Regions from separate parts of the Homo sapiens genome. Here region 2 is linked to region 1. The links come from fine-mapping of genetic effects on gene expression. Tissue or cell type: whole blood. Region 1 holds a variant in brackets; the other region holds the start of a gene. All regions are shown on one strand. Distances are from middle to middle.

Region 1 (2,760 bases):
ACGGAAAATAGCTCACAGGATAGTCCTCAACTGACTTGCTTGAGGATAAGCAGCTTCCCTTCGTGAAGAAGTTGCCATTTCTCTGGCCTTCATATTTATCTACTTTTTGTTATTGTTGTCTGTATCGGTTCAATCTCACACTGCTATAAAGAAATGCCTGAGACTGGGTAACTTATAAAGAAAAAAGGTTTAATTGGCTCATGGTTCCATGGGCTGTACAGGAAGTATGACTGGGGAGGTCTCAGGGAGCTTTTACTCATGGCAAAAGGCAAAGCCAGAGCAGGTATCTTCACAGGGCTAGAGCAAGAGGAAAAGAGAGAGGGGAGGTGCTACACACTTTTTATGCAACCAAATCTCATGAGAACTCTATCACGAGACAGCAGTAGGGGGACAGTGCTAAATCATTCATGAGAAACTACCTGCGTGGTCCAGTCACCTTGCACCAGGCCCCACCTCCCACATTGGGGATTACAATTAAACATGAGATTTGGGTGGGGATACAGATCTAAACTGTATCATTACTCAAAAAAAAAAAAAAAAAGAAAGAAAAGAAAACACAGGAAAAGGAACTCACCTCTTTTATCATCTTAGTATTTAGTACTAATGGTTTAGAGCAGGAATTGACAAACTGTGGCCTGGACTCATGGACCAACTCTGGCCCACCACCTGTTTCTCAGAAGAAAATTTTATTGGAACTCAGCCACACTTACTCATTTACATGTTGTCCTTGACTGCCTTTGTGTCCAGTGTCAGAACTGAGTAGCTGCAGCGGAGGTTGTGCCTCTGGGCTTTAATATCACAAACAGAGCAGCTTATAAGCAACAGAAACTTACTTCTCACAGTTTTGGAGGCTGGGAAGTCCAAGATCAAGGTGTCAACATATTTAGGGTCTAGGGAAGGTCTGCTTCTTGGTTAATAGAAAGCACCTTTCACTGTGTCTTCACATGGTAGAAGGGGAGAGCTCTGGTATCTTCAGCCCCTTATAAGGGCACTAATCCCATTCATGAGAGCTCCACCCTCACGACCTAATCACCTCCAAAAGGCCCCATTTCGTAATACCGTCAGTTAAGTTTCATTATATGACTTTGATGGGGATATAGCCCATAGTAGGTTGTATGTCCCTGAAAGCCTAAAATATTTACTGTTTGGCTCTTTACAGAAAATATTTTCTTGGCCCCTGTTCCAGAGCATTCATCAAGTCAGATAAAGGGTTTAAACCAGTCAGAGAAACTAGGTGGAATGGAAAAGTACTGAGAGATAATTGGGGACAGAAAAATAAAAGAGATGGGAAATG[C/A]TGCATCAAAATACTCCTACCTCTAGGATGTTACTATATATTGTTAGGAGAATTCAAGTTATTGAAACTTGCCAAATTCTTGAGTGAAGAGGAATTCATTTGAGAGCCAAAATTTGACTAAGGAAAGAAGACCAACATGGGCTTTCCAAAGTTGAGTTTGAATTCTGCCATCCCCACTAAGCAGTCATGTGACCTTGGAAAAACTCCCTACTCTGAGTCTCAGTTTCTTTATCTGTATTAGGTTTCAACAAAGGGAATAAATCATTGGCTTCTCATGAGGTTGTCATAAGGATTAAATAAGACAATGCATATAAAAGAACTGGCAGACAATAAATATAGAGTCCCCCACTCCTGCTTGGTGCTCTCTTTCTCTCTCCTTCTCTACATAGAGAAGTGCCAGAGCATCCGTCAGTAGAAGTTACTTAAGGTTGGCTGTGTCTTCCACATCTTTTGTTTACCCATGAAGAACTGTGACCATCTTGTTCTGTGTCTTGTCATAAAGATGGGACGTGACTTCTTTCTGCTCTTGCTTCCATCTGGTGCTGTTTTCTGCACAGCCTCCTTGAGACCTTCCAGAACCTTCTTTTTTCCTACTTCATATCACTTAACCAGTAGCTATCTGGGATGGTTCCAGAGGCTGAAGTTTGCAGTTGAATAACATTTTAAATAGTGTTAAGCGACTTGGGATCTCTGGCCCTTTGCGTTTCAGTATTTGTCCTTTTTATGCCTGATGTTTAACCTGCCACATGTTTGTACTGCAACATGAATCTTGGAAATTTTAATGTTATGCATTTCAAATGTTTTTGGTTATCTGTAAACTAAATGTGCCCTTATTGGCTCACTTGTCAATAAAGATGTTTGTATATGTATTGTCAGAAACTTTTGTAAATTGCTTTTAAATTCTTCCTTTTTTAAAGCATATTTTAAGATGTAATGAAGGACCAACCAAAAAATATCTCCATATCATTCAGGATACCAATCCCATTTCTAGCTGGTCATCTGGCTTCACAACTTCTGGAGAGATGGGATGGGAGATACCGTCAGCAACCCAAGTATCTGCAAGAAGGTTAAGGAGTAGAGGAAGATAGTTTCTAACAAGTAGTACTGAGTCCCCAGGCCAGGTATAGGCACTACTCAGTAGGGCTAATTGGGGTGAAAGGGAGGGAATAACTTCGTATAAAAAGCACAGTTAAAATTAGGCAAAATGGGCCAGGTGCGGTGGTTCAAGCCTGTAATCCCAGCACTTTGGGAGGCTGAGGGAGGCAGATCACCTGAGGTCAGGAGCTCGAGACCAGCCTGACCAACATGGAGAAACCCCATCTCTACTAAAAATACAAAATTAGCCAGGCATGGTGACACATGGCTGTAATCCCAGCTACTCGGGAGGCTGAGTCAGGAGAATCACTTGAACCCGGGAGGCAGAGGTTGCAGTGAGCCAAGATAGTGCCATTGCACTCCAGCCTGGA
Region 2 (2,630 bases), 20 kb before region 1:
ATGTCAGGCAAGACAGGGTTCTCATGGGAAGACTCTACAAACAATGATTCACTTCCAAGCACACAGAGCTGTCCAAAGGGTTCAGCTCCTTGCAGGTTGTGGGACCAAGGGCCTTCGGTTCTTGCAGGCTATTGGCTGGAGGCCATCCTCAGTTCCTTGTCATATGGGCCTCCCCAACATCACCACCACTTCATCAAAGCCAGCAAGAGAGGAGTCTCCTAGCAAGACACACGTTAGACTTTTATGTCACCTTTATTGCACTGTATTGGTTAGAAGCAAGTCCCAGTCCATACACAAGAGGGGATTGCACAAAGGTGTAACTACCAGGTGGCTGAGATAATGGGAGTTACAAATCCCTTCTGGGAGCTGGAAATCATCTTTCCTTGAAGTTTCTAAAAGCCACTGAACGGTTTGAAGCACTAAAGTAATAGCATATTCTTGTTTTAGAAAGAGCACTAGCCAGAAAGTGTGGAGAACAGATTGGTGGTAGAGAAAACCTTAGTTAGGGAATCCAGTTACCAGGCTGCAACGGCAATCCTAGTGAAATGGTGGTGGCCCCAACTAAGGTAATGCTACTGAGAATAGAGAAAGATGGAAACAATTGAGTTATTTAAGATACAATGAATAGGACTTGGTGATAAATAGATGGTGAGATCAAAGAGTTAAGAATATTCAGGCTCTGGTTTGTGCAAATGAGTGAGTGGGCAGTAATGTCATTCACTGAGAAAAGGAGGGCAGTCTAGACACGAAGCTGGAGGTGGATGGGTTAGTCCTCTAACAGAATTGGAGAGACTGAATAACTCTCCCTTGAAAGAACCACCTTTTATGATATGTTTAAACTAATGCTTATGTCTGCAAAGAACCTATTGCTTAAATTTGTTACAACAGGTTCAATCTTTTCAACTCATTTTAAATACATGAATTTTAGGATTACAAGTAGTCTGTGGATACAGGAACATCTGACTGAGTGTACAAAGAGGGACCTGCTCTTCCTAAAAACATCCTTCGTATGTTTTGAAAGCAAAAGGATGAGTTCTGGGCGCACAAAATATGGATAAAAGCTATGTATTTTAACGTATCTTACACCGGAGTAATTTGGGTTGAACTCAGCAGCCCTAAGCACTGTGCCGCAGGAACTTGTGCAGACAAAGCGCGGGGACGGACCCTGACTCCGGTCCGCGTCTCCGCTGCTCCCTCCCTCCCTTGCTCTGAGGATTAGACACAGGAGATGCTGCCTCATACTCTCGCGAGACGGACGGAGCTCTTCGATCGTCCGATTCTCCCAGCCGCACCACGGGTGCTCCCACCTGCGGAGAACCGGAGTCTGGCGATGCCAAGGCGCTTCTGGGAATTGTAGTTCCGGGCGGGATGAGGGCAGCACGCCTGGCTCCGCTCCTTCTTACGCATGCGCGACTCCGAGCTGGCCAAAGAAGTTCGTCCCCTTTGTGAGGCCCGGGATGGGAGGTGAGTTGCTTGTGGTGATGTCGCTCGTCTCGGCTCGGCCTCGGCGGTGGTTCCCCGGGTCGTTCTGTGCCGAGTCGGGGCTAGAGTGCGCGTTTGTTAAAGGGGCCTCGAGGGCAGACCATGAGCCCTGTCCCTTCTCACTCTGGCCTGATCCTCTCCTCGGGGGACGCGGTTGTGCCACGGGCGGGGTGGTCGCGGGGTTCTGGGCCAGTGCCCCGAGCGCGGCAGAATTTGTCCAAACTCCTGATGCCCCAGCGTCACCTCTTCCAGGTGCCCGGTTCCCCCAGGGACAGCTTCAAGCGGTAGGGACAGACATCTGAGGACCCAGCCTCAGGGATGCTGTCCCCGGGCTTCCAGGCTCCAGCGCCGTAGGACTGAGGCAGACTCCACGGTGAGAAAGAGACCCGATCTAACCCAGGCCTTTCATCAGAGCCCAGGAGGGAAGGCAGGAAGTGGGACCACGAGGCCCGGGGGGCTTCTAACTCGTCTGGCCAGGGAGATCTGAATTGGGGTGAAGAGCAGAATCTCCAGAACAAGGAGGAGGTGGTGATCATGGAGACAGATTTGGCTGAAATGCCTGAGAAAGGAGGTGAGAATTGCGGACGTGTTGAACTTGTAGCGTGGAAGGACGAAATTCCTGCTCCTGAAGGGAAAACGGTTGGCTCAGGGGAGGTGGCTCTTGGCTGGCTGTCTCCATTGTCTTGGGGATGGATGGGCTTTTTAAGTGAGACTGAAGGGCTTGGTATGGGAGCACCGCCCTTTCCATGGCAGCTGGGCACACAGTGGACCCTTCAAAGCTACCCCCAAAATGTGAGTGAAATGTTAACTTCTATGGCAAGAATTCACCTCTTTGGTTGTCAAAAATGTTTTGTTTTACATAGGAGAAAACAGGCGTAGTAGTTAATGACTGACTTCCATTCTACCTGACCAGTTTCATGAAGGTTGTGCTGTGACCTCCTACACCAGAATTCCCCCTGGGGTGGTTGTTAGATTTCTGGATTGTACCCCAGGCTCAACTAATGCTTATTACTTTGAGGTGGGGTCCAGCAATCTACATTATAAATAAGCTTTCAGAGTGAGAACCAACGAGTATAGATTAAACTGGGAAATTTACTGACATATTCTAATTTCTAGATCAGAGGATGCCATCTTACAGAATGTGTTAT

Evidence for each region. PIP is the estimated chance that this variant, and not a neighbour inherited with it, causes the effect.
Region 2: ZNF286A starts here. The variant in region 1 is the best candidate, but not a certain one, in a credible set for the expression of ZNF286A in whole blood (INTERVAL, PIP 0.78).

What each region holds. Positions count from the first base shown.
Region 1 is chr17:15,718,615-15,721,374 of GRCh38, forward strand. It overlaps ZNF286A (zinc finger protein 286A), which reads left to right. Exons shown (of 6, transcript NM_001130842.2): 6 at 1-2,173. The region is part of intron 6 of ZNF286A-TBC1D26 (ZNF286A-TBC1D26 readthrough (NMD candidate)); the gene reads left to right. Among named protein-coding and RNA genes, the nearest start is that of TBC1D26, 12 kb to the right of the region's middle. The variant C/A (reference allele first, on the strand shown) is at 1,295.
Region 2 is chr17:15,698,314-15,700,943 of GRCh38, forward strand. ZNF286A (zinc finger protein 286A) reads left to right here and starts at 1,439. Exons shown (of 6, transcript NM_001130842.2): 1 at 1,439-1,464; 2 at 1,822-2,053. The coding sequence starts at 2,017. It overlaps ZNF286A-TBC1D26 (ZNF286A-TBC1D26 readthrough (NMD candidate)), which reads left to right and starts at 1,439. Exons shown (of 23, transcript NR_171000.1): 1 at 1,439-1,464; 2 at 1,735-2,053. RefSeq lists enhancers at 1,136-1,747, 1,183-1,232, 1,243-1,562.